Linked DNA regions of Homo sapiens: region 1 is linked to region 2. The links come from fine-mapping of genetic effects on gene expression. A gene starts in region 2. The other region holds a variant in brackets. All regions are shown on one strand. Distances are from middle to middle. Region 1 holds the start of SCAT2 (S-phase cancer associated transcript 2). Region 2 holds the start of NFE2 (nuclear factor, erythroid 2).

What was found. PIP is the estimated chance that this variant, and not a neighbour inherited with it, causes the effect.
Region 1: its variant is the best candidate, but not a certain one, in a credible set for the expression of NFE2 in blood mononuclear cells (TOPMed, PIP 0.63).

Annotation. Positions count from the first base shown.
Region 1 is chr12:54,254,242-54,264,576 of GRCh38, reverse strand. It overlaps CBX5 (chromobox 5), which reads left to right. Exons shown (of 5, transcript NM_012117.3): 2 at 6,885-7,063. The coding sequence starts at 6,927. SCAT2 (S-phase cancer associated transcript 2) reads right to left here and starts at 1,962. Exons shown (of 2, transcript NR_157844.1): 1 at 1,640-1,962. It also overlaps the pseudogene RN7SL390P. RefSeq lists enhancers at 5,090-5,259, 7,453-8,114. The variant A/CA (reference allele first, on the strand shown) is at 5,602.
Region 2 is chr12:54,296,728-54,307,062 of GRCh38, reverse strand. NFE2 (nuclear factor, erythroid 2) reads left to right here and starts at 6,048. Exons shown (of 3, transcript NM_001136023.3): 1 at 6,048-6,262. RefSeq lists cis regulatory regions at 1-82, 2,302-2,822, 3,002-3,502, 5,302-6,276 and an enhancer at 5,161-5,901.

The DNA of each region.
Region 1 (10,335 bases), 42 kb after region 2:
GCCACTGCGCCCGGCTGGCTTTCATTCTTAATAAGAAGAAAGCTTAGTGAAAGATCTAGAATTATGTGTACTTTTGCTCATAAGTGGTGATGAAAATGAAATGACTATAACAAGATAAGAAAAGCCACCAGAATTGGTATTGAGAAGTAGTGACTGCTTTGTGGGGGTAAGGCAGGAGGATTGCTTCAGCCCAGAAGTTTGAGACCAGCTTGGGCAACACAGTGAGACTGCATCTCACCAAAAAATAAAAAAATGTAGCCAGGCATGGTGGCGTGCCCCTGTGGTCCCAGCTGCTCAGAAGGCCAAGGTGAGAGGATTGCTTGAGCCCAGGAGTTTGAGACTGCAATAAACTGTCCGCACCACTGCACTGCAGCCTGAACAACAGAACGAGGCCCTGTCTCAAAAAAGAAATGACTGGAGGGATGAGAGTAGAACCTGAACTGGACAAAGCAGACAGATACCAGGGACCCTATGTGGGTTCTTCCAGCATTAAACGGTCAATGCTGAGGGCTAACCATTACCTCTTTTTTATTTGAGACGGAGTCTCACGCTGTCTCCCAGGCTGGAGTGCAGTGGTGCGATCTCGGCTCACTGCAAGCCCCGCCTCCTGGGTTCACACCATTCTTTTGCCTCAGCCTCCCCAGTAGCTGGGACTACAGGCTCCCGCCACCACATCTGGCTAATTTTTTGTATTTTTAGTAGAGACAGGGTTTCACCATGTTAGCCAGGATGGTCTCAATCTCCTGACCTCGTGAGCCACTGCGCCTGGCCTTTTTTTTTCTTTTTTCTTTTCTTTTTTTTTTTTTTTTTTTTTGAGATAGAGTCTTACCCTGTTGCCCAGGCTGGAGTGCAGTGGCGCGATCTCAGCTCACTGCAACCTCCGCCTCCCGTTTAAGCGATTCTCCTGCCTCACCCTCCTGAGTAGCTGGGATTACAGGTGCGTAACTGCCTCAGCCTCCCGAGTAGCTGGGATTACACCACGCCTGACTAATTTTTTTGTGTCTTTAGTAGAGACGGGGTTTCACCATGTTGGCCAGGCTGGTCTCAAACTCCTGACCTCATGATCCACCTGCCTTGGCTTCCCAAAGTGCTGGGATTACAGGCGAGAGCCGCTGTGCCGGCCTACCTCTTGTTTTTCTGGGTTGCCCTAGCTTGCTTGTGATGCCCTCTCTGTAATTGCTGAGGACTGATAAGTTTTTTGTTTGGTTTTTTTTTGAGACGGAGTTTTGCCCTTGTTGTCCAGGCTGGAGTGCAATGGCTTGATCTCGGCTCACTGCAACCTCCATCTTCTGGGTTCAAGTGATTCTCCTGCCTCAGCCTCCCAAGTAGCTGAGATAACAGGTGCCTGCCACCACACCTGGCTAATTTTTGTATTTTTAGTAGAGACAGGGTTTCACCATGTTGGCCAGGTTGGTCTGGAACTCCTGACCTCAGGAGATCTGCCCGCCTCGGCCTACCAAAGTGCTGGGATTACAGGCGTGAGCCACCGCGCCCAGCCTCTTTTCTCATCTCAATGGGCCTTAGGTGCTGTAATCTATAGTTATTGGTAGCTTTACCAGATAGTTCCTATGTATATTTAAGAGAGAAGGCTGAGAGCTGTTATGCCTGAAAGACTCCAGAAATTTGAGAAGCTACTCACCCTTTCCCTTGGAGATTTCCACAAGGATAAGGTTGTGTTCAGAGGCTCATCTTCTTTTCCTCTGTCATGGTATTGGGATTCTATCTTAATCACTCCATCATCCTGCCAGCCATGTCTCATTTCTCATGCTGGAAAGCTCCCTCCTCCTAAGCTCAGTGTGAACCACCAGTCTTGATGCTTTATCTGGTCTAGGCTCTAGCCCTTAAATTGTTTGACTGGCTTTGTGTTTCATTTGACCCTAATACTCCGGGTCACACTGTCTAAAAGAGAATTATGTCCCCTCCGATGTCTGAGTGCATTTCTCATTTCTTACTGCTGCTCCTGAGCAGATCTGTAACTTCAAGGTTAAGATAAGACACATTCCATCAGAACTATGTCGTCATCCTTGCCAGCTTCTGATCTGTGACTGTCTAGGAGATTTACAAGACAATTGCATGCCATCCTTTAAAGAATATTATGGTTGTACTCTGACTCCTGGCATCAGGCCCAATTCGATTTGTCAGTGGTTACAAAACCCATTTCCCAAAAAGAAAAGGACCTCGGCCCATGTGCCCTTTAGGCAGTTCTTAAGGGTGGAAAGGAGGGAATTGAACTCAATCTTTATTTTCTGATGTTTTGTGGGGAGGGGTGGACACCAGAATATTTTTGTCTCTTTCCTCATTAAATTCACTTTTCTTTCTCTGAAAGGTTTCACCAAAATGTTAGTATTGCTGTCATTCTCTCCTGTTCCTTATTCCTTCACAGAGTTACTATTAGTCTTTTCATTCTGCCATCTTTAAAGTTTGTCTGAGTTTTAAGGAATAAGTATTTTGCCCTTGAGAGAGAACGTACCTACCCTGTTCTCTGAAGGTTTATTCGTTTTCCAGTGCCTAGTTAACAAAGACACTGTTCCTCTTTTTCTTGCTATCTACTAATGTGTTGAGCTGCAGGAGTTACTGCATGTGATATGGTTTACTAGCTTAGGAATTTGGAAGGTCACATATTTTCTTCTGCTGTTGTATTCAGCCCTGACATATTTTTACAGAAGGTTCTTTTTGGGGGACTTAATAGATCTTTGGTTTCAACATAAACTCACTTTTTCCCTCGGAGGTACGTAGGGCAGGTAGTACAGATTTATTTAGCCCGTTTAAATGATGCCGGGGTTAGATGGAAAATTTATTTACTCAGGATAACACATGGCAAGTTAATCAGAGTCAGGATCCTATTTAAATGTTTGTTATTGTTTTTATATCCCTTAATTATGAAAAGTTAAAAGGTAAGAGTTGAAAAATGCCGTTTTTAATTGGAGGTTTGCTGATGGTCCATTCAAATCTGAGGAAATCTTTTGTAATTAAAAAATTTCTGGCCGGGTGCAGTGTCTCATGCCTGTAATCCCAGCACTTTGGGAGGCCCAGGTGGGCGGATCACAAGATGAGGAAATCGAGACCATCCTGGCCAACATGATGAAACCCCATCTCTGCTAAAAATACAAAAATTAGCTGGGCGTGGTGGCACATGCCTGTAATCCCAGCTACTTGGGAGGCTGAGGCAGGAGAATCCCTTGAACCAGGGAGTTGGAGGTTGCAGTAAGCCGAGATGGCGCCACAGCACTCTAGCCTGGTGACAGAGCGAGACTCCGTCTCAAAAAAAAAAAAGAAAAAAGAAAAAAATTTCTACTTTGGTCTTACACCCTATGGTTTCTTCTGTTTGACAGTCGTAATAGTCACCATTGTGCTTCTTCTCAACTGAGTTCTTTTTTTTTTTTTTTTGAGACGGTTTCGCTCTTGTTGCTCAGGCTGGAGTGCAGTGGCGCAGTCTCGGCTCACTGCAACCTCTGCCTCCCAGGTTCAAGCGATTCTCCTGCCTTAGCCTCCCAAGTAGCTGGGATTACAGGCAAGTGCTACTATGTCTGGCTAATTTTTGCATTTTTAGTAGAGATGGGGCGTCACCATGTTGGTCAGGCTGGTCTCGAACTCCTGACCTCAGGTAATCCACCTGCCTCGGCTTCCCAAAGTGCTGGGATTACAGGTGTGAGCCACTGTTCCTGGCTCAACTGAGTTCTTTGCTTTTGATTGTCCCTTTTTCTTACTCTCCTATGGCAGCCACTTCTGGCTTTAAAGTTCCCACATCTATAAAGCAGAGTAGAGTTTTGGAGCTCTCTAAAATGTTCTTTAGAGCCAGAAGAATGGAAAACTTACAGTATTTCAAGTCTCTATATATCTTTTTTATTTATCCTAGTACTCCTTTTCTCAAGTATTGAGACATACTGATACAGAGAGTTGTATATTAATAATGTATCAGGTGATGAATAATTATTTAAAAATCTGTTTTATAACATTATAGAGCAACCTATAAGTGGTTTAAATTTATCAACCATTAGGTTGTGGCAGAACTGCTCTCCTCTTTTTTTTTTTTAAGCTTCTTAGGAATTTTTTTCCACCTAAATTCATTTTGTTTTATTTTTTCGAGACAGTCTCACTCTTGTCGCCCAGGCTGGAGTGCAGTGGTGCGATCTAGGCTCACTGCAACCTCTGCCTCCTGGGTTCAAGCGATTTCTCCTCCCTCAGCCCCCTGAGGAGCTGGGACTATATGCGCCTGCCACCACACCTGGCTAATTTTTTTGTATTTTTAGTAGAGACGGGGTTTCACCACGTTGGTCAGGCTAGTCTTGAGCACGTGACCTCAAATGATTGCCCCGTCCCGGCCTCCCAAAGTTCTGGGATTACAGGCATGAGCCACTGCACCTGGCCCTCCACCTCTAATTTTAGTTAAAAGGGGTTTTTTTTTTTTTTTTTTTTGGTTGTTGTTTTGGTAGTGCTTCATGTCTTTGGATTTTGTCTCTAGTAATCCCCCCAAAGAAGGAAAGTTATATAGTGTCTTTAAAATACTTCCCCTCCCCTGTTTCCTGTTATTTTTCCCCTCAAGCAATTTTAATTAACTGTTCTGTGACAGACGGTAAAATGGGATTGCCCAAAGTGCTCTGGTGGGCTGGATTAAGTGATGGGTGGTTTGTACTGATCGTGTTGTAGAAGGATCGAGCCTTTCCCCTCCCCCTTCAGTTGAGCTGTAATCTTGTTAGATGATCTTAAAATGTTATTGATTAATTCACAGTGCTGTTAGAGGAATAAGCATAAATACTGGATTTAAAACCTAAGAAGTAATTCCCTTAAGCTCTGAATGCCTTAGCCTTGAGGCCAAGAGAGGTACCTTCCAATTTCTCCACCCAGTCTTCACTGAAAAGGAAAGTTAAGCCTTTTAACTTTTCCATTTGCTTCTCCCCCTTAGTGTAGTACTGCTGCCAGTTGCTATGGCAACGGACTGGGACAGCTGCGCAGTGGCGCCCAGGCAGCTGGGTGGGGGCAGGGGAGCTGCCAGCCCGCCAAGACCCAGACCTGGGAGGGGAGGCCCCTCCTGTTAGCCCAGAGGGAAAGAAAGAACTGGGGCGATCCGGTAGGTAAAGGAGGGAACCCCCATTCATTTTCTACCTTTGGGGCTCCTCTTCTGCATGAAGGTATAAAGGGAGATTTTCCTTGTCTCTCCCTCAAAATGAAGAACACATGTAAATCCTTGTTTTTCCTGGTGAGGCAGGGGAGGCCATAGCCACAATGCTTAACTGCATGCATCTAACATGGGGCTGGTTTTAACCCCAGCGCTCTGACCTAAACTGCTCAGCTCCCGGAAATTCCAAGGTGAGTGGTGGTGGGGGTGGGGTACTCTCCCTGGAATATGACATTTCCTGTCTCTGGTGAGGTTGGAGGCTGTTTTATTTTAAATAAAGCACATAAGATATTTTCTTGAAGCTTAGGACTCTTCTAAATTCATGGAAAAATTATTTTAACCCCCCCGCACCTACATTTTGCTACTACTTCCTCTTCCAAATAGAGTATTTTAATAAAAACTTAGTCTTATAGGGCAGTAATGGGTATAGGCAGTTTTTTAGGTGGGCAGACCTATAGCTAATAAGTTCTGGAGATATGGTCTCC[A/CA]ACTATATATTCTTGTAATAATTTTTAAAATTTTGCTAATTTGAAGTGAATTGATAATTGCCACTTTTTATGTGACTTGAACATCATTCTGAGGTTAGTAGTGGGCCCTCCCTGACCCAGTGGTTTTCTGGTCAGGGTGGAAATATTTAGAGGGTGCTGATAAACATCTTTAAAGATTACAGGAAAATAATAATGGAGTTCAGCTAAGAAAACAATTTCTGCTACTCTGTAATCCAGACTGTAGGCACCATTTAGCATGGTTAAGGAAGAATTCTTAAAAATGATTATGGAACAACAACATGGGAATTTTTAAAACTAGATTCTCTGTTGAGTACCCCCTGGTGTGCATATTTCTGAGCTTAACTCAATTTCCATTTGTGTTTCCTTGCTTCAGCTTTCCTTGGGCCTATGAATGGTTCCTCTGTATTTTGAGGAGGCTTCATGTTGATGCTGAGTCTGGGGCCAGACTTCTTTTTCCTCCTCCTCTTCCTTTGGCCCTGAGTCAACTTCAGTTAAGAGGGAGAGGTACCTTCTTAACTATTTGGGTTAGTTGCATCTTGGGAATTACTGAATAATCTAGTGACTAATTTTGAATTTTAGGACTGAAAAATTTTTTCTCCTTTCTGCCTCCCTCCCATCCCCAAATTAGCTTTCTAAAAAGGAAGATTAGTGTGTTTGAGATGTCAGCCTTGCTTTTGTGAGCTGATGGATGCTCTGAAGGGACAAGCTCAATTTGTTTAAGGGAAATGTACCAAGTCACTGAAAATGTGGTGAAAGGTGCCTAAGCAAGCCTTTTTTGTGTGCTGCTAAGAGACTGGGCAAGATGCTCAGAGCACAGAAAACTCATATTTTAGTGGCTTTTCTTTTTTCATTTTTATAAAGACGCTTATTCACCTTGGAGAAAAAGGTTTTAATTTTATCTTGGTTCATTTAACTAAAGATTTTGCACATTTCTGTTTGAGTTCCTGGCTTGTAAACAGTTACAAACATAGCCAGGAATAACATACCACACTACTTGTCTTTTGGAATCTGAAATAGAAGAGTTAAACAGTTGTGCCTTCTAATAATTTTGGTCTCTTTAGCCGAAGAGGAGGTTGTAGTTGAGGAAGTGAAGACTGATTCATTTTTAAATTAAACTCTTAGGACTCATCTGTAGAATGATTTGAGACTCAAGAGCAGGGCACATGGCAACTCAGTGTTATCCCCTTTTCATCCCATCAAGAAAAGACAAAGTTTTTAACTCCTCACATGGATTCTAACCATTTTGTCCTTTGCCTTTGCAGGGACCTGGTGGCCTTAGTCTTTCAGGTGGAACGGTGTGCGACATGGGAAAGAAAACCAAGCGGACAGCTGACAGTTCTTCTTCAGAGGATGAGGAGGAGTATGTTGTGGAGAAGGTGCTAGACAGGCGCGTGGTTAAGGGACAAGTGGAATATCTACTGAAGTGGAAAGGCTTTTCTGAGTAAGTTCCTTTTTTCCCCCAGGCGTTGGGACTCTGTAGAGATAGATACCTTTGGTTTACTTCCTTAGGAATCACAAGCATTTTTGTCTTTTTCTTCCCCCTCCTGCACTCTTCCTAAGAGTTAGAAGACACAGCAGTAAAGAAAACAAAATCTCTCCGCTTGTGGAGCTTACGTTCTAATGATACTGCTTTTGAAAGGCAGTATAATGAATTGGTTAGGAGCACAGACTCGAGAGTCAGATTGCTTGGGTCTAGATTCTAACTCCACCACTTATGATACAAACTGGATGGCCTTGGCTAATTTCCTTAATCATTTTATCTCCTCAGTGAAATAAGGATAAGCAGTAGTGCTTATAAGGCCAGGCGTGGTGGCTTGCACTCTAATCTCAGCACTTTGGGAGGCTGAGGCGGGTGGATCACCTGAGGTCAGGAGTTTGAGACCAGCCTGGCCAACATGGTGAAACTCCATCTACTAAAAATAAAAAAATTAAGTGTGGTGGCAGGTCCCTGTAATCCCAGCTACTCCAGAGGCTGAGGTAGGAGAATCACTTGAACCTAGGAGGCGGAGGTTGCAGTGAGCCAAGATTGCGCCACTGCACTCCAGCCTGGGTGACTGTGTTTTTAGTAGAGGCAGGGTTTTGTCATGTTACTCAGGCTGGTCTCGAACTTCCAGGCTCAAGTGAGCCACCTGCCTTGGCCTCCCAAAGTGCTGGGATTACAGCCGTGAGCCACCGTGCCTGGCTGTGAAATTAATTTTAATAATATTTTATTTAACCTAATACGTGAAAAATACTATTTCAGCGTTAATCAGTACAAAAGTTATTAATGAAATTTGTGTGTGTGTGTGTGCTAAGACTTGAAAATCTGGGATGTATTTTATACTTTATAGTGCATCTCCATTCAAACTAGCTGCATTTCAAATAGGCACATGTGGCTAGTGGTTACCATATTGGATGGCACAGCTCCTGCAGTCTAGGACCTAAATACACTAAAAGATACAGTGGTTTACCAATACTTTTGGATAAAGGCTATGTGTCAAGAACCTTTGAAACATACTGGAGGTTATTTCATTACATGACTCAAGGTTTCTCATCTGGAGAATTATTGGCGTTGTAGGTGGGATCATTCATGCATTGCAGGATGCTTAGCATCTCTAGCACCCAGAGTGCAAGTATGGGTAGCACAACAATCAGAAGATGCCCTCTGTTTGTAGAGAGGAGTGGTATCACAGCTTCCACTAGAGATGAGAACTGTTAAAGTTTGAGAGACCTCTAGAGCACTAACAGATAGGAACTAAAGTAACACCAGAAGATTTTGAAGATGTTTATTGGGCCCATTTCCACTGGAAATATTTGGGTGTTTGAAAGATACTTGAAACTCTTTCTCTGTCATTGAGCTACTGGTACCTTACCATAGATGAAAGGGGAAAAGGTAAGGTTTGGGGTAGACAAAGTAAACATTGGTCCTTTTTCAGAAATGCCCTGGATTTCATAAAAGACTGGAACAAATCAGCATTGTCTATAACTAAATGCCTACTTTGTGCTAGACAGTGATCAAATTCTACCTCTTGTGCTCTCTTCGATTCTCACAAAAGCATTTAGAGTCCAGGCATGGTGGTATGTACCCGTGGTCCCAGCTACTAGGGAGGTTGAAGTGGGAGGATTGCTTGAGTCCAGGAGTTTTGGGCTGTAGTGCACTAAACCGATCAGGTGTCTGCATTAAGTTTGGCATCAATATAGTGACCTCCCAGGAGTGAGGGACCACCAGGTTGCCTAAGTAGGAGTGAACCAGAGCAGGTCAGAACTCCCATTTTGAGCATTAGTAGGATCGTACCTGTGAATAGCCACTGCACTCCTGTCTGGTTAACATAGCAAGACCCTTGCCTCTTTCAAAACTTTAATTCTTTTTTTAATTTAAATTTTTACATATTTTTATCTTTTTTTTTTTTTTTTTTTGAGACAGAGTCTCTCACTATCGCCCACGCTGGAGCTCAGTGGCGCGATCTCAGCTCACTGCAACCTCCGCCTCCCGGGTTCAAGCGATTCTCCTGCCTCAGCCTCCCGAGTAGCTGGGATTACAGGTGCCTGCCACCACGCCCAGCTAACTTTTTGTATTTTTAGTAGAGACAGCATTTCACCATGTTGGCCAGGCTGGTCTCGAACTCCTGACCTTGTGATTCGCCCACCTCAGCCTCCCAAAGTGTTGGGATTACAGGCGTGAGCCACCACGCCCTGCTTTTTTATCTTCAAAATAGAGACAGGGTCTCACTGTGTTACCCAGGCTGGTCTCGCTCTCTTGGGTTCAAGCGATCTGCCTGCCTTGGCCTCTTGAAGTGCTGGGATTATAGGTGTGAATCACTATTCCTGGCCAACCCAGGCTCTTTTTAAATCATACTATGTTGTCTTTTGGGTGGAAACTGAAGTAGAAGCAGCAGTACCAAAGTGTTAGGAAAAGGGATAATCGCATTATAGGACTGGCTTTTCTAGCTATCAACAGATTCTTCCCAACCCCCAAGTGTATTCGGCTTGTGTAATAGTCTTGGTACACCTTTTGATATTGGTATGTTAATTTCCTCTGGGATGGTAAACTATATGGTCTGTGGGTTTTGGGGAAAGTTACTGTGTGAGGAATTTTTTTTCTTGACTTCTTTTCTTTTTTTGAGACAAGAGTTTTGCTCTTATTGCCCAGGCTGGTGTGCAATGGCGTGATCTTGGCTCACTGCAACCTCCTTCTCCCGGGTTCAAACGATTCTCCTGCCTCAGCCTCCTGAGTAGATGGGATTACAGGCGCCCGCCACCACGCCCTTCTAAATTTTGTATTTTTATTAGAGATGGGGTTTCACTGTGTTGGCCAGGATGGTCTCGACCTCCTGACCTCAGGTGATCCACCTGCTTCTGCTTCCCAAAGTGCTGGGATTAGAGACTTGAGCCACCGTGCCCGGCCGAGGAATTTTTTTTCTGCTGAGAGAAGGGATATAAAGGAGAAACTTTCCCATATTAGCTCAAATGATTTAGAAATAAATTTTGTCTCAATATTATGTTCCTTTTGTAGAAAGTTGTTTAGGTCAAGAGTAAATAGCTCAGATTTTTCCGTCTTTCTGCTTTCTACTTGAGTCAGGTTATTATGGCATGTGTTCAAATCATTCCCATCTAAATAAACCTTTTTTTTTTTTTTTTTTTTTTGAGATGGAGTTTCACTCTTGTTGCCCAGGCTGGAGTGCAATAGCTCGAACTCAGCTCACCACAACCTCCTGCCTCCCGGGTTCAAGTGAT
Region 2 (10,335 bases):
CTACCAGAGTCTGACCTCCAGATAGGGCATTCGAAGTTCCTCAAGCCCTTGGGTCACTCTGGCCTCCAGGTATCTAAGCTTTCATCTAATAAGTAACAGACTAATTTTTGTATTGATCCCATTTTATCTTCCTAACAACTTCGCTAAGTGGGCATTCTCATTATTGTCTCCATTTTTCAATAAAGCTCAGAAAGGAAATAAAGCTCAGAAAGGTTAGGTTGGCCGGGCTTGGTTGGTGGCTCACACCTGTAATCCCTGCACTTTGGAGGCTGAGGTGGGTGGATCACCTGAGGTCGGGCGTTAGAGACCAGCCTGGTCAATATGATAAAACCGCATCTCTACTGAAAAAAAAACAGAAAATTAGCTGGGCATCTTGGCATGCGCCTGTAATCCCAGCTACTCAGGAGGCTGAGGCAGGAGAATTGCTTGAACCTGGGAGGTGGAGGTTGCAGTGAGCTGAGATCATGCCATTGCACTCCAGCCTGGCAACAAGAGCAAAACTCCCTCTCAAAAAAAAAAAAAACAAAAAAAACAGAAAAGTTGGGTTACCCAAGGCTACATAGCCAATAAATGCCAGGACCCAAGCCCAAGTTTCTTCGTTTGTTTTTTTAGAGATAGGGTCTTGCTCTGTCACCTAGGCTAGAGTACAGTGGTTGGAGTATAGCTCATTGTAACCTCAAACTCTTGGGCTCAAGTGATCTTCCCAGCTCAGCCTCCTGAGTACCTGGCACTACAGGTTCAAGCCACCACACTCGACACCAAGCCCAAGTCTTCTTTTTTTTGAGACAGAGTCTCACTCTGTTGCCCAGGCTAGAGTGCAATGGTGCGATCTCGGCTCACTGCAACCTCCGCCTTTTGGGTTCAAGCAATTCTCCTGCCTCAGCCTCCCAAGTAGCCGGGACCACAGGCGCCCGCCACCACACCCAGCTAATTTTTATATTTTTAGTAGAGACAGGCTTTCGCCATGTTGGCCAGGCTGGTCTCGAACTCCTGACCTCAAGTTATCCACCTGCCTCGGCCTCCCAAAGTGCTGAGATTACAGGCATGAGCCACCATGCCCAGCCCCCAAGTCTTTTTATTTCATTTTATATGTTATTTATTTATTTATTTTTGAAATGGAATATCGCTCTGTCACCCAGGCTGGATTGCAGTGGCATGATCTCGGCTCACTGCAACCTCTGTCTCCCAGGTTCAAGTGATTCTCCTGCCTCAGCCTCCTGAGTAGCTGGGATTACAGGCATGTGCCACTACACCCGGCTTATTTTTGTATTTTTAGTAGAGACGGGGTTTCACCACGTTGGCCAGGCTGGTCTCAAACTCATGACCTCAGGTGATCCGCTTGCATCAGCCTCCCAAAGTGCTGGGGTTACAGGCGTGAGCCACCGCGCCCGGCCTATTTTGTTTTTGTGAGACAGGGTTTTGCTCTGTCACCCAGGCTGGAGTGCACTGGCACAATCACAGCTCACTGCAGCCTCAACCTCCTGGGCTCAAGCCATCCTTTCACCTCAGCCTTCTGAGTAGCTAGGAGTACAGGTGCATGCCATCATGCCCGGCTATTTTTTTTTTAATTTTTTGTAGAACCAGGGTCCCACTATGTTGCCCAGGCTGGTCTCAAACTCCTAGGCTGAAATGATTCTCCTTCCTCAGCCTCCCAAAGTGCTGGGATTAGAGGTGTGAGCCACTGTGCCCAGCCTCAAGCCCACTAATAAGACTCAAGATCTATGATGCACCGTGAAACTACTTCTCTTTCTAGATTTAGAATTAAGCCCCAGGCCAACATGGTGAAACCCCATCTCTACTAAAAATACAAAAATTAGCTGGGCGTGGTGGCAGGCGCCTGTAATCCCAGCTACTTGGGAAGCTGAGGCAGGAGAATCGCTTGAAACCGGGAGGCGGAGGCTGCAGTGAGCCGAGATCACACCAGTGCATTTCGGCCTGGGTGACAGAGCAAGACTCCATCTCAAAATAATAATAATAATAATAATAACAATAATAATAAAATACAGTAGAATTAAGCCCCAGGGATTATTTCTTCTGGGACTATACTAGGTTTATCTATCAGCCTTCATCCATTTTGGTGTTAGTACTAGGCTCTGCTAAAGGGCATTAACTCTTAGATGCCAGGGTCTGGGAACCTCAGTCGTATCTAACTCCCTTGAAAGCCCCAAACCCTTTTGTCCTGAGAATGGGGTTCAGTCTCCCCTTAACTCCTGAGTCAATCGTCTAAAAATTGTTATCTGAGGAAAGAAACCTCCTCAAAGACTTTTTTAAATCCTATCCTTACCCAAACTGGAACACAAGGAACAATGAGTTATATGCTTCAGAAAATCTAGTCCACCATCTGAGCCTCTGTGTATACCAGGGCCCCCCGCTAAGAGGGGCCTCGCTATTCCTTGGTCCCAGACCCCTCTACCACCTCCCCCAAGCATCGGGGTAACCGCCCGGCTCTGCTGCCTAGGATAACGCCCAGCCCTCCCCTTGCCCCCTGTGGCTGCCTCCCCTTTCCGTCTGTTGAGAGAGGAAGCCAGGGGGTGTTGGGTGCAACCCTGCAGGGCACTGATAAAGGGCCAGCCCTGCCCCCACCCTCTGGGGCCACTGCGGTCAGACCAGCAGGCAAGCAGGCAAGGCAGCCAGCTCCCTCTGGGACCCATGGCCCTCCCCTGGTTCCACCTCTACCCACCCCGCCCTTCTCGGGAAGCTGGTTGCATAACTCAGTGGGGTGTTTGGCAACATTGCTTGTGGCTTGACCTGCTGCTGCTGGTGGTGTACACACACGTTATGAGGGTGAGGGTAGGGGTGGGTTGACCAGGTGTGACAAGAAGTGAATCTTTTAGGGAGTGGGTTAGCAGCATACGTGGAGAATGATAAAATAGTAAAGATATGTGGCCGTGGTTTTCTCCGTATCGTATTCTGTCTCTGCTACCTTTGATGAAGTGGGAGAATCTTGAGGATAGGAAAACCTTAGACATCCCTGCTTTACCAAGTCTTAGGCACTATCCAACCCATTCAGGCTGGCTCCTAATGTTTTGCAATTTGTAAATCAAACAAAGGAGACTTAAGGTAGAAAGGTGTTTGGTCTGGATTTCAGGAATCTGAGAGGAAGGGGCTAAAGGAACCATCCCCTCCTTTGAGGGCTGTAAAGGGTGTTCTGCCTCCAGAACACAGCCTGAGAACCACAGTGAAGTCCTCTTTTTCTGTAGGAGAGGAGTGAGGGTGAGATGGGAGAGACATCTCCACCTAGCCAGTCACCTTATTGAAGGAAGGCTGTCTCTTCACTTAGAACACCCTACTTGACTATGTCTGTCCCTTCAAATAAGTAGTAGATGACCTCAAACACTTCTATGAATCCCTACTATTTATAGGATAAAGTACACTCTCCCTAGATTGACTCTCAAGACATTGTATAATTTAGCCCCTGTCAAATTTTCCAGGCTTATCTTCTCCTACTTCCCATCCCATACCCCAACCTAGCAAACCCAAAGTATTGCTCTGTATTTTATGCCTCCATGCCTTCACATCTTTGCTTGGAATACTCTTTTCCACTTCTCTGCCTGGGAAATTCCTAGTTTTTCTCCACAGCCTAACTTAATTGTCACCTCCTCTGTAAAGCCTTCCTTGAATTTCACTGGGCAGAATTTATTTCCTCTTCTTCTCCATAGCACTGTATATACACCTTTATTTTTTTAATTCAAATTTTTTTTTTTTTTCTAGATAGAGTCTTGCTCTGTCGCCCAGGCTGGAGTGCAGTGGCACGATCTCAGCTCACTGCAACCTCCACCTCCTGGGTTCAAGTGATTCTCCTGCCTCAGCCTCCTGAGTAGCTGGAATTACAGGCACATGCCACCACGCCTGGCTAATTTTTGTATTTTTAGTAGAGAAGGGGTTTCACCATGTTGGTCAGACTGGTCTCGAACGCCCGACCTCAGGTGATCTGCCAGCCTCAGCCTCCCAAAGTGTTGGGATTACAGGCATGAGCCACCGTGCCTGGCCTATTTTATTTTATTTTATTATATACACCTTATTAATGTAATTCCCTGACTAGACTTGACTGAAGATACAGACTGTCTTGCTCATCTTTGTGTTCCTGGGATGTAAAACATAGTAGACACTCAATAAATATTTGTTGAATGAATGAATGATGAGCCTTGTGTTACCCATAATTGTCTATGCAACACCAGTATCCTGAACTGATAATTCTTATTCAATAAATGTTTGTTGACTATCTATAACCTGATATCATTATATAGTCAGCCACAAGTGTGACTGTTACCATTCTTCATCCCCTCTGAGTGGCCCAAATAAATATGCAAATGAGAGAATTATATCTGAGAGCCTACATATGTGACCCAGATTCATGCCCAAGTCTGAAGAGATTCTGAACCCACATGTAACATGTAATGAAGGCATTGGATTGCCTCCTGTCTTACCTTGATCATGCATGTGCAGTCATGATCTACTGGAAAAGGGATGGAATTCAAAGCATTTAACCATAGGTTTGGCATGGGCATTGGCCAATTCCAGCAGAAGCAGGCAGCACAGGAGGCTCCTTATGGTACCAGCATTGCCTCTTTACTTCCATGGTTGTGTTGCTGGGTTGTTGGGGATCTTAGAGGAGAACTAGGCTATTGGTGGAGTCGTGGGGGACACTTAGAGGGCTCACAGCAGCTGCCTTTTATCAACTAGGACTGAACATTTTCATTATTTTAACAGCAAATACAATCCCATCAGAGCATGCTGGTTGAATGCCAGTCCTACTCCAGAGTGGCACCTATCTGCTTCCCCAGTCTTCAGATGTTTCTAATTTAACTTGAACATTGTAAGAAGAAAAAATGTAAGCTGCAGATGTCAGGATTGAAGCTAGACATATAGAGCTGAAAGCCATTACAAATTAGGAGGAAGAAAGGCTCTTTTCTCACAGTCTGTGGAGAAAGATGTTTGACCTGGGGCTTTGGTGGTGTAGCTTGCAGGCAAAAAGATGAATAAGTGGGCTGGGTGAGGTGGCTCATGCCTGTAATCCCAGCACTTTGGGAGGCCAAGAGGGGAGGATTGCTTGAGCCCAAGAATTCAATACCAGCCAAGGCAATATAGTGAGACACCACTTCTACCAAAAAAAAAAAAAAAAAAAAAAATTAGCTGGGCATGGTTGCACTGACCCATAGAACCAGCTACTTGGGAGGCTGAGGTGGGAGGATTGCTTAAGCCTGGGAGTTTGAGACTGTAGTGAAACATGTTCACACCACTGCACTCCAGCCTGGGAGACAGAGTGAGCCCCTCTCTGGAAAAAAAAAAAAAAAAAGATGAATAAGGGTACTTACTGGCCTAACAGAGTTGGGTGCCATGTGGCTGGGGTGCTTTGCCTGGGAGAAAGGAGGACAAAGGACACCTGGGGTCCCCTTTACGGGAGGTGAATAATCTCCCTGCTGGGTGGCCCCCCACCTAACTCCCTTCACACACTGACAAAAACCTGGCCAAGAAAGAATCCTTTGTCCTGGGACTTCTGAGGCTGAGGGGGGAGGGGAGAAGGCTACAGGTGAAAGGACACATCAAAGCAGTCAGTTGCCCCTCCTCCTCCAAATAGTTCCCCTGCCCTTGTTCCCAGAGCCCAGGTTTTCTGTAAATGAAGGCTATACCCTAAACGTCCAACTGCCTAGACAGCTGGGAAGCTAGACACCTGGTCCTTACCTTCAGCTGCCTTCCACCTTGATATGACTCAGTTTCCCTGTCCCTAGGAGAGCCGTGGGGACACAAGGCGACGACAACCTGTATAAAGTTTAAAGGTCACATTCGAGTGGACCATCAGGTTGGAATTCGTCAAATGCATGGGAGAAACGCAGACCTGGCTGGACTCCTGGGCTGAAAAGGAGGGCTGGGAGAGGCTTGGAGCCATGTGTGCCCCCGCTGGCCAGGAGCAAGGTGGGGGCGGGGTGTGGGCAGAAACCACATCGGGCTCAAGTTTCCTCTCTTGGCCGAAAGGGGCAGGAGGAGAGGAGAGCCACGGGGAAAGGGGAGGGTTGGAGGAAGGACTGAGAACTCAGGCCGAGGGCTTCAGACGCTGGTGCGCCTGCTTGGGGCTCCTGTGCTCAGCTCAGCCTGAGCTTCCACACTCAGCGCTCAGCAATGGCCCGGGGGCGGGGCGCGGTCCTCGCAGATTCTCAAAGGTAGCCGGGATCCTCGTCCAGCAGTGTCAGCTCAGGCTCAGCCTCCCCAGAGACAACACCGGGAGCCTCATCTCTCTCCTCACCCTGCTGTGACTCCACCACAGGTGCCTGAAAGGCAGGGTGTGTGTGGGGGGGGCGGATTCCAGTGAGATCCGAGGGGCAGGCTGGGGGGTGAAGGAGGTGAGGGGGGAAAATAACCAACTTTCGGTATCCTAGGAGACCTCAGACTTTCTAGATTGCCCCTGGTTTAGGAATCTGACATATTTGGGAACTCCTCTAGGAGAAGACCTAAGTGGTTTCTTGGGTGCTCTGGGATCCTTGGGGTGGAGGCTGTGAATGGGGATCAGAGAGGGGTCTCCAGAGGCAAGGCACCGCTGAGGGGCTGGGGAGTAGCCAGGAGGAATCCTTCAACTGGTGGGCTACCCTGAGGGAACCAATAGACTACCCTTTCCCCAACTCCATTCCATTACTCTGCCCTGTCTAGGCAGCTGAGAAGGTTTAGGGAAAGCTGAGGAATTGGAAACACTGGATATCTGAACCTCTGAGAAGTGTTGCAAGGTGCGGGGGTTGGATGGGAGATTGCCTCTGGGTTGTTGGCTCCTTTGCCCTTTCTCTTCTCTGTGCCCAGGGGCAGTAGAGATCAGCTGGACCTGGAGGGAGAAGGAAGACATCCCAACCCCAGCATAGTTGCTTCTAACTGGAACTCTTGGCTGCTTGGGAAATAGGGGCTTGGGAAGCAGTGGAAGAGAAGAGAGGAGGTATCAGAACTGCTGGGGCTGGGATCCCCTAGACATCGGTACCAAAGGACTGGAGTTTGGGGTCCAGGGATGAAGTGACACAATAGCAGAAACTCGTCCCCCTCTTCTTTGTTCTCACACATTTGTTTGAGTCATGCATGTCCCTAGGGCACTGAGCTCACTATGCTTAAATCTCTCTCCCTCCTTTTTTTCCCCTTCATTCTGTCTCATCTCTGTGTGTCTCTCTCTCTTCGGGAGTTCTCCCTAATCTTTCTAAATAGGTTGCTTACCGGTTAACCAATACCCCAAGTTTTACTAATCCCTCCTCATCCTTTCACTGCACCTATTGACACCTGGAGAGGTGAGGTGGTCAAATAAGCCTCAGAAAAGGGATCCTGAGGCAAGCCCCCTCTCATCGTTCCCCCTCGTTAAGGAAGTTAAGAGCCCTGGGGCAGCAGCTAAGGCCAAATGTATTCCTCTCTCCATCATCCCTCTCCGAATAGTCCTCACTCTGTATTCCTAATCATGAAGCTCCGTATCATTCTGTGAGTACTTAGGGATTATGATAAAAATCTTTCTGGGTAGGACCACCAGGCTAAGAGTAAGGAGGATGGACTTTAGTCCCTGGTGACAACCCCATTTCTACCTAATCCATAATGTTGGGGAGTAAGAGAAGGAACAGACAACCCAGTGGGAGTAAGATGGTGGTGTGACCCCAAAATGCAAAAGCTAAACTGTAAAGTGGGAGCTTCTTATTGTAAAAGAAAGGGAACACAGGGAAGCCCACTTCACTTTCCCAGTATCTCCCCAGTTTCTATACCCTCTATGGTGTTCTATTTGATCCAATTCTATCTATCTCCCTGATCTATCCCACTGCCTGCCAGCTCTGCTGTCCTCTGAAAGGTAGGCTCTGGAAACCCAGAGGGACCCTATGCCTGGTGTATAGAACACCATCCATCCTTGAGCGTCTAGGGAAAAGCATCCTGCTCCACCTGCCACCTGGTACAAACTTGCTACTGCACCCAAGAGCTGGTTGGAATGGATCCAGAGGTTCTCCTCAACTCTCTCTCCCCCAAACTCCTGCCTCCCCTTGCTCCCCTTCTTTTTTTTTTTTTTTGAGACAGAGTCTTACTCTGTTGCCCAGGCTGGAGTGTAGTGGCATGATCTCAGCTCACCGTAACCTCTACCGCCCAGGTTCAAGCAATTCTCATGCCTCAACCGCCTGAGTAGCTGGGATTACAGGTGTGCGCCACCAGACCTGGCTAATTTTTGTATTTTTAGTAGAGATGGGGTTTTGCCATGTTGGCCAGGCTGGTCTCAAATTCCTGACCTCAGGTGATCCACCCACCTCAGCCTCCCAAAGTGCTGGGATTACAGGTGTGAGCCACCACACCTGGCCACTGAGGCACTTTTAAAATGCTGATTCCTGGGTTTATGGATTCAATTCAGTAGATTTGAAGTGGCTTTTAGGAATCTGTGTCTTTACATGTAGCCCAGGTGAATGTGGCACACAATGAAGTTTGTGACTCCCTGAGCTAGATGCAACCTATGGCCTTTAATAGCAATTAGGTTCCTAGTCCTGTCTCCATTTAATGGAAGGGACTGAATGAGAAGCAATTTGCCCACGGTCATGTATCTTTTTTTTTTTTTTTTTTTTTTTGATGTGGAGTTTCACTCTTGTTGCCCAGGCTGGAGTGCAATGGCATGATCTTGGCTCACCACAACCTCCGCCTCCTGGGTTCAAGCGATTCTCCCACCTCATCCCCCCAAGTAGCTGGGATTACAGGCATGCGCCACCATGCCCGGCTAATTTTGTATTTATAGTAGAGACAAGGTTTCTCCATGTTGGTCAGGCTGGTCTTGAACTCCCGACCTCAGGTAATCCTCCCATCTTGGCCTCCCAAAGTGCTGGGATTACAGGCGTGAGCCACCGTGCGTAGCAAGGTCTTGTATCTTAAGTGCCAGAGAACCTAGGTCTCTGGCCTCCTAGGGCAGGATCTTTGTACTGCACCTTAGAGTCAGATCCAAGAAGATAAAAGGAGAGACAAATGGGGGGATTGGGGTGAGTAAAGAACTGTGAAGCAAGAGTCATTGTCTCTGCCTCCTAAACCCCTTCTCCATTCACTTTGCCTTTGGGCAATTTCCGCCAGAACCTGGGTGGAGGAGGGTGGGGTTCCGGTGTTGAAATGGCATCCTGGACAGACATAAACACCCCACCCACTCTGCCCACTGGCAGAGTTGCCTACACCAACTCCCATCTCTGGGGATGGCAGTAAAACAAGGGGATGGAGGCAAGGGCTAGGGGAGATACTCTTTCAAAAGGATCATTTGTAGTTCCTACTAATTTTGTGGTAAGTCGAAGAGAAGATTCCATATTAAATTGCTGTGATGGGCCATCCTTGTGGTGAGTGGTCTAAGGTCATGCAATTTGAGGTCATACAATCCTATCCTCTGTCCTTCTTTTTCTTTCTTTTCTTTTTTTTTTTTTTTTTTTTTTTTTCCGAAACAGAGTCTCACTCTGTCGCCCAGGCTGGAGTGCAGTGGTGCGATCTTAGCTCACTGCAACCTCCGCCTCCCGGGTTCAAGCAATTCTCCCTGCCTCAGCCTCCTGAGTAGCTGGGATTACAGGCGCCCACCACCAAGCCTGGCTATTACTTGTATTTTTAGTAGAGATGGGGGTTTCACCATGTTGGCCAGGCTGGTTTCGAACTCCTGACCTCAGGTGATCCACCTGCCTCAGCCTCCCAAAGTCCTAGGATTACAGGTGTGAGCCACTGCACCTGGCCGTTTTTTTTTTTTTTTTTTTTTTTTGAGACAGGGTCTTGCTCTGTCACCCAGGCTCTCGAGTGCGGTGGCACAATCATGGCTCACTGCAGCCGTGACCTTTCAGGTTCAAGTGATCCTCCCACCTCAGCCTCCTGAGTAGCTGGGACCACAGATGTGTGCCATTATGCCTAGCTAATTTCTGCATTTTTAGTGGAGATGGGTTTTCACCGTGTTTCTCAGGCTGATCTCAAACTCCTGGGCTCAAGCAATCCTTCCACCTTGGCCTCCCAAAGTGCTTCCCCTCTCCCATGTTTCCTTCATCCTAGCCTGCTTCCCTATACTGATATGGCACGGTATGTCTGTGTGCGTGCACATAGACACAATGTCTGACCGTAGAGATCAGGAAGACCTTGCCAAATCTACTTGGAATCTCTTGCTGACGGCAGGGAAAACAGATGCAAGGAAGGTGGGTGTCAGGGAATAGGGAGGTAGCATGAGGAGAGGGACTGACAGAAGAAGATAAAGACACGGGTGAGGGTTTGCTGAGAATTCTAAGCTATCCAAGCAGAAAGGGACCTCCAAGGTCAATTTGTCCAACTCCCTGGTTTTACAAATGAGGAAACAGAGGCCCAGAGAAGTGAGATGGCTTGCCCAACATCACACTGCTGCTTTGT